Homo sapiens: one gene and its partner. Each later gene encodes a partner of the first gene's protein in a complex. Each region holds a gene or a part of one and is shown on either strand. Other genes may lie near its edges.

Region 1 (3,500 bases):
TCTCAATTCTGTCACTTCTCTGAGCCTCTGTTTCCTCATCTGTAAAGTGGGGATGATAACGTTCACCTCAGAGGGTTGTTAGGATATTAAAGATAATACACGTAAAGTTCCTCAGGCAGTGGACAGTCAGTAGGGAGAGGCTGGCTGGGATAAGTGAGCCAGACAGAAAGAGACTCAGGCTGGGAGGCAGGTGAGGAGGCTCCAGACTCTAGAAGAGGGGACTTGGGCCTCATCTGAAATGAAGGCAGGATTCAGATGAGAGGAGGAAAGCTGTCCATTGTGGATAGATGGAGTCGCTGGGACCTACTTTTTTGTGATGAATTGGAAGTGAACTAAGGGGAGGCAGACCCAGAATATATGTGCTGAGGACCAGTGGAAAGGTGGTGACCCAGGCCTGGGCCAACAGGTCAGAAAGAAGGCTCTAGACTAGAGCAAATAGAGTTCACGTTTCATCAACGGACGCCACTGGGCACCGTGCGCTTGTGTGCATGACATGGTTCTGGGTTCCACAGGGAAATGAAGAACATGTTTGGAAGGAAGGGAAGAAAGGAGTGTGGGAGATTTACTGCGTGCCTAGTGCTTCGTATGTACCTGAGTACAGGGTACTGGGACAATGGTACAAAGCACCCTAGAGCAGGGGCTCCCCAAAACTGATCCTCGGGCTAGTGCTAGGCAGAATTCCAGAAGAGAGGAAACTATATAATTTTTTAATATTGGAAAAGTAATTTGATTTGGACCACAGGGAAGACTACAAAGAAAAAGTAATTTAAGTGATGGTGGTATTGTTACTGCACGTTCAGGCTTTAGAGAAACTTCCATCTTTCTCAGCTTTCTTTCCTGGTGCCTTTTAATGCCTGAAGAGTGAGGTGTGAGTGTGTGTTTTCACTCAGGTGTGGTCAGAGAACAAAGCAGTGCTGTTCTTTCTGAGTCTTTCTGAGATATTTCTGGGTGAGAATGATCCCTCCCTTTGCAGGATCTCCTGTGTAACCAGTTTTCAAGTTTTTGATGATCTATCACTTAGATTCATATTTAAAGAGCATTCTACACAAACCAGATCTATTTTCCCTGTTAGCTGGTATGGTCTATAGAGAATTGTTTAAATAGACAAGTCAGACATGGCGGTAGATGGAATGTTCTGAGTGAGGACAAGGAGATTCCAGTGTGTCAGGGGAAGGATCTGTTCCACTGCAGCTGAGTCCCACTTGGGATGTGGTGAAGCGAGCAATGGCAGAACTGAGGACAGGGTTTGAGTGACCTAACCGGTGACAGTGGGTGGACATGAGGCCGAAGAGCTGAGCTCTGCAGCTGTCTCAGGAGACAGGTAGGATGAGACCTCTGGGAGCAGTGGTCAGTGCTGGAGGGCTGCTGACAAGGGCCAGGAGCCCGGGACCTTCAGGGACAGGCTCCTTTCCACCAAGACCATCTCCAAGTGATCTGTGCTTGGCCCAGGGAAGGGAGAAAAACAGAACCCTAGACCCTAACATTGCAAGTTACCTTACTCTTCTACCTCAGTTTTCCACCTAATGCACAATAAACATGGTCTAAGGAGGACAGTTCCTCACTACTGAAATCTAATGCTACAGCAAGATACATTTCTGCAAAGAGGGATAAGAGGGAACTTCAGTCCTAAGGCCTCAGTCAATAAGAGATTCTCTGTCCCATCTTCTTTCTTGTGTCACCACCCAGGGTTATAACTAGGCTAGAAGTCTTTAGTCAGGGTGTCCTCTCTTCAGCCAAAGCAGACGTGATTTTTATGCTCCCCTTAGAAAGTACAACACTTGGGTTCAAAGAGTCATTCAAAAGATGTCCCATTTTCTCACTCATTATAGACCAAGCCAAAAGTGTTTTCTTAACAGTGCAGAGGAGAGAGATGGGGCTTAGAGATAAGAAAGGAGTTCTTGAAAGCAAAGGGTTGGAAATTTTGGCCTAAAGGGACATTGGGAGTTATTTTCCCCTGCCAGGCCTGAGTCACAATCAATGGTCATCGTGGCGTAGCAGAAAGAACATGGGCTTTGGAGTCAGACTTAGGTTCATATCCTAGCTCTGCTTATTAGCTGTGGGACACTGGGTGAGTTGACTTAACCTCTCTGATCCTCAGTTTCCTCAGCTGCAGCATTATGTGAGAATATTGCCCCAATGTGATAAACAAATGGAATAAAGCCCATGAAAAGCTCCTGGTGCCACCGCATGGGGCATTATGGGGACAACATCATTTCCCTTCCCCTTCTGTTCCCATGGTTACCTCCCTCCCACCTGAACCATGTGGGCATACCAGGAGGCAGGCAGATAAATTCATTCAATACTTCTTTATTGAGAGCTTATTATGTGTTGGGCACGAGAAATTTAGAACAAAATAGATCTCATCTTTCCCCTCATGGGATTTTTCTGTCCAGCGAAGGTGACAGAGAAAACAATTCACAGAGAAAACAAACCTTAAATTACAAATTGTAGTCGATCTGTGAAGGAATTGAAACATCTCCGGGGTGCAGGAGTCGGTTCTGTCTGGGTAGGTGAGCAGGGAAGACCTCTCTGGAAAGGAGGTGGCCAGGCAGGGAAGTGGGGGAAGCAGTCCAAGCAGAGGGAACAAGCATACGCCAAGGCCCTGAGGCTGGAGAGCGTTCGGCCTGTGGGAAGAACTGAAAGGAGGACTTTGTAGCCAGGAAGACTGGTAGGAGAGGAGATTGGGCTTTGATAAGTCAAAGTAAGGAGTTTGGATTTAGGTTTGGTTTGGGGTACAAGAAACTACTGAGCAAGCAAGCAACATATCTAATTTATAAAGATATTTCTCGCCCCTGCTGCTAGGAGAGTTCATACTCCTCCATCACAGCCCAGTGTGGGCAGCCCAGGCCTGTCTCAGGGAGGCACCCCTGCCCCACAGGCCTGAGCAGAGGGGGTGAGAGAATCCAGGCTATGTGGAGAGATGAGCTTTCAGAGGTGGTGGGTGCGAAAGGCCAGCCTCCCACCCTAAGATTTAGTACCACCCACTCAAGCAGATGCTTCCATCTCCTGTCATCTGGGAGCTCCTTTTTTTTTTTTTTTTTTTGAGATGGAGTCTCGCTCTGTCACCCAGCCTGGAGTGCAGTGGTGCAATCTTGGCTCACTGCAACCTCCGCCTCCCGAGTTCAAGTGATTCTCCTGCCTCAGCCTCCTAAGTAGCTGGGATTACAGGGGCATACCACTACGCCCAGCTAATTTTTGTATTTTAATAGAGACAGGGTTTTGCCATGTTAGCGAGGCTGGTCTCAAACTCCTGATCTCAGGTGATCTGCCCACCTCGGCCTCCCAAAGTGCTGGGATTATAGGCGTGAGCCACCGCACCCAGCCCTAGCTGGGAACTCCTTGCACTGAGGTAGGGAGAAAGCAAGGGTGCCCTTTTGGAGCAGGTGGGCTGAACTTCTGTAGCAACTAAAGCCCAAGCTGTGAGTCAAGCCTCCCAAGTTATTCTCACCTTTAATGAAATGCTCAGTCTGATTTTATAGGGAAGGAGGTACTGTCAGATC
Region 2 (4,152 bases), about 17 Mb from region 1:
GCTGGGAGTTGTCTGTGTCCACTCAGTGTAATCGAGGCAACCCCTGTGTAGCGGGGCTGAGGGATGGATGGAGGCCCATCCACCCAGGAGGGACTGACCACACCCAGCTGCCCTTTACACCTGCAGGCACGGCGGCCCCTCATCCTTATCTCTGGCATCAGGGCCACCTCCTGTACCTCGACTAAGTACTGCAGGGCCCCGCCCCACCCCTTGTCATCCATTAGGAAACATTCTGGGGCTCGGGGGATCCCGGACACCCTCTCAGCTCCTGCCCGGGGGCCCATGTGGTCAGTGTTTCTGTAAGGGGTAGTGGGGAGGGTGTGAAGGGGCCAGGGGGGCTCAGGCGGGCAGGAAGAGGGGAGGGTGGAGGTGTCACCTGGGGTGCCAGGAATCCACTCTGGCGTGAGGACTCCGGACCCTCTGTCTCGTGTGGCCTCGGACCAGTGGCTTGACCCCTCAGAGCCTGTGGAGCACGGAGCGTGCAGGGCTTGAAGGCGACCATGAGGGCACCGTGCAGGGTTAGGACACTGAGCCCAGCCCCAGCCATGAGAGGCCAGAAGCTTCGGCGCACAGGCCTGGAGGAGGAGAACTCCACCTACCCCTCACGACAGCCACTTCCTCGCCCCGACCCTACCCAGTGGCCTCTCCCTAGAGCTGGGGGCTTCTGGGGGGCCAATGAAAAGAGCAGGGCAAGTGTCGAGTCTCACCTCACCCCCTCTGTCGGGCACCAGGGCCCCCCAGGAACTCCCAGCTGCCCCTCACAGCCCCGCCTTAGCCTCAGTCACTAAGGCCCTGTCCAGCCCCGCCCTGAGAAGCCGACTTGTCTCTGGGGCAGGCAGGGGTGTCCCCAGGACACAGTGAGGAGAGCCTTTTCCTTCAGAACCTGCTGTCAGGCAGGGAGGGAGGTGCTCCCTGGGGAACACCCGGGTTCTGAGCCTCAAGGGGTGGCCTTAGGAACTTTGCCTGAGGGAGATCTTAGGGGAGGAGCCAAGCCAGGGCAGCCTGGGCTAGGGAGGCAGGTTCCAGACACCCCGACACCAAGGGCCGAGCCCCCGCCCCCAGCCCCCAGCTTCTCTCCCACACCCTAGCCCTGCCCCTGCCCTGCCCCTACCCCCACGGCACCCATGAGCCGCTCTCCAGTCCCTTCTGCCCTGTGCCTCGGTGCCTGTGACCTGAGCCCCCTGGTTGACCCCTGCACTCAGTCCAACTTGGGCCAAACGACTGCCCCTCCTTCTGGCAGTGGGCTGGACCAGCCGGCCAGCGGGAGCCCCCTTGGCAGAAGCCGGTCGTAAAGGATCATAAACTGGGCGGCGTCTGGCTGGGGCGAAGGTCGCTGAGGTAGGAACTGCGCCAGTCCTAGACGCCAGACCCGCTCAGACCCTCCTGCCAGGTGACAGCCGCCAAGATGGGGTCTTGGGCCCTGCTGTGGCCTCCCCTGCTGTTCACCGGGCTGCTCGTCCGACCCCCGGGGACCATGGCCCAGGCCCAGTGTATGTGCGGGCAGGGGTAGGTGGGGCACGGGCGGCGGGGAGCCAGGGGCTGGGAGGCACTGATCCCTCCTCTGCAACCTTACAGACTGCTCTGTGAACAAGGACATCTTTGAAGTAGAGGAGAACACAAATGTCACCGAGCCGCTGGTGGACATCCACGTCCCGGAGGGCCAGGAGGTGACCCTCGGAGCCTTGTCCACCCCCTTTGCATTTCGGATCCAGGGAAACCAGCTGTTTCTCAACGTGACTCCTGATTACGAGGTGTGGGCGGCAGGCGGGCGGGATATGGGGGTCCCGGGAGAAGGGCACCTGCATCCTCAGGCCACACCTCCCTTGGGGGCCTAGGAGTTCTATGCCTGCGGGCATCCACTGACACCCATGCTTGGTGGTGCCTGCCCTAGAAGGCTGGGCCATTTCGGGATGAAGCTGCCTGGGCCCACACCCTCAGCACTGACCACTGATGATGGGGACCCTGGGCCAGCGCCTGCCCACTTGGCCTCAGTCTCCCCACCTGTGGGGCAGGACGGTGACTGCAGACCTGTCTACATCCACAGGAGAAGTCACTGCTTGAGGCTCAGCTGCTGTGTCAGAGCGGAGGCACATTGGTGAGTCCCCGCCCCGCTCTCCCCGCCCCACCCGGCCACCTCTGCTGGGCTCTGCCCTGCCGGTCCAGGACCAGTCTTTGATGACGTCAGCTAGGGTGTGGTTTCAAATTCCACCCCCCCGAGGGTGATGCCCACATTTCCTCCAGTCCAGACTCTGCCCTGAGCTGTGGAGTCCCCGTCACTGACCCCTTGTCCAGCAGACACCCCATCCAGTGTGCCCAAGACTCCCACCCACTCCCTCAACCATCCACAAGGGAGGCACCTTTATCCTGCCAGTCACGGGGACCACCTTGGTTCCCACTCGCCCTCCCTCCCCACGTGTCCCCCACAGCCCCCCACTGGTAAATCTGTTGGCTGTGCCCCAGCTCGACCCAGAAATCCAGAGTCTGTCCACCTCCAGTCCCATCAGGGCCGGGACACCAGCACTCATTTTGGGAAACTTCCAGCTGGCCCACCGGCTTCCCTGTTGCCCTTTGCTGGCCCCAGTCCACTCCACGTGGCAGAACAGCCCCTGTGGATGTTGTAAACCAAGGCTGCCCAGCCCACCCCAGCCCTCCACGGCTCCTTTCTCACCGAGTCAAACCCAGACATACTGTGCAGAGGCTCCACTGCAGCCTCAGGGCTCCCGCCAGGCACGCCCCTCCCTCACCGGCTCAGGACTGCAGTCTTCAGAGAAATCCCAACCACCCTATGCCCTGTTGCATCCCAGCCCCGCTCCCCCAACATCCTGCTTCTTGACCGGCGGCATTTTTTTCGGCTTTATTAAGGAAAATTGCAGAATCCTGAGGCCAGCACAGGCCCCCTCACCTACCAGCACACAGCAGGCTCTGTGCCCTCCATGCACCACGGCACGTCACCTGCACATATCTTGGGATATGTCTCTGAAAGAGAGAGACTCTTTTTTGAGACAGAGTCTCACTCTGTCACCCAGGCTGGCGTGCAGTGGAGCGATCTCGGCTCACTGCAACTTCCGCCTCCCGGGTCCAAGCGATTCTCCTGCCTCAGCCTCTTGAGTAGCTGGGATTACAAGCATGCGCCACCACGGCCGGCTAATTTTTGTATTTTTAGTAGCGACGGGGTTTCTCCATGTTGGTCAGGCTGGTCTCAAACTCCTGACCTCAGGTGATCTGCCCGCCTCGGCCTCCCAAAGTGCTGGGATTACAGGTGTGAGCCACCGTGCCCGGCTGACAATCCAGTTTCTTCACAAATAAATCTCCAGGAAAAAAGATGGGAGAAAGGGAAAGGTACAGATGAACAGAAACTCAGGAGAATTACCAACCAGGTCCATAATGTGGGCCCTGATTCAAACAAACAATTGTTAAAAAACCCTTCAGAGACCACGGGGAATGTGGCATCCTGGACATTTGAGGTAGAAAGTGACCGCTTTTCCCAGGTGTGACAACGACATTGTGGTTATGTTCTAAAAAGAAGAGTCCTGGCTGGGCGCCGTGGCTCACACCTGGAATCCCAGCACTTTGGGAGGCCGAGGCGGGTAGATCACCTGAGGTCAAGAGTTCGAGACCAATGTGGCCAAAATGGTGAAACCCCGTCTCTACTAAAAATACAAAAATTAGCTGGGCATGGTGGCAGGCACCTGTAATCCCAGCACTTTGGGAGGCCGAGGTGGGCAGAGGCCGAGGCAGGAGAATCGCTTGAACCTGGGAGGCAGAGGTTGCAGTGAGCCGAGATCACACCACTGTACTCCAGCCTGGGTGACGACAGAGCGAGACTGTATCCAAAAAAACCCAAAAACCAAAAAACAAAAACAAAAACCAAAAAAAAAAAAAAACAGAGAAAAGAAAATGGATTGTCTTTCCTCACCTGAGATTCTGCTGGCTGCATCCCCAAGTACCTGCATTATTTTTCTGTGGAGCACCTGCCACCTCCTGGCTTTATAAAGTCCTTTTTGTCTGTTGTTATAAGTCCTGCCAGGACAGGCACCACCAGGCAGAGATTTGTCTCTTGTGATCTCTGAATCCCAACGCCTAGAGCTGTGCAGCCCCTGTAGCCCCCCAACAACTGAATGAGCGAGTGGACGGATGGCCGTCGAGGGGTGC

Evidence for each region.
Region 2: USH1C (region 1) and CDHR5 share a complex: the UniProt entries of both Homo sapiens proteins name them as parts of the IMAC/intermicrovillar adhesion complex.

What each region holds. Positions count from the first base shown.
Region 1 is NC_000011.10:17,534,417-17,537,916, reverse strand, and holds part of USH1C (harmonin), read left to right. Parts: intron 1-3,500. UniProt on the Homo sapiens protein: Anchoring/scaffolding protein that is a part of the functional network formed by USH1C, USH1G, CDH23 and MYO7A that mediates mechanotransduction in cochlear hair cells. Required for normal development and maintenance of cochlear hair cell bundles.
Region 2 is NC_000011.10:622,156-626,307, reverse strand, and holds the start of CDHR5 (cadherin-related family member 5 isoform 1 precursor), read left to right. Parts: upstream 1-1,352; 5' UTR 1,353-1,405; coding exon 1,406-1,490; intron 1,491-1,575; coding exon 1,576-1,751; intron 1,752-2,044; coding exon 2,045-2,095; intron 2,096-4,152. UniProt on the Homo sapiens protein: Intermicrovillar adhesion molecule that forms, via its extracellular domain, calcium-dependent heterophilic complexes with CDHR2 on adjacent microvilli. Thereby, controls the packing of microvilli at the apical membrane of epithelial cells.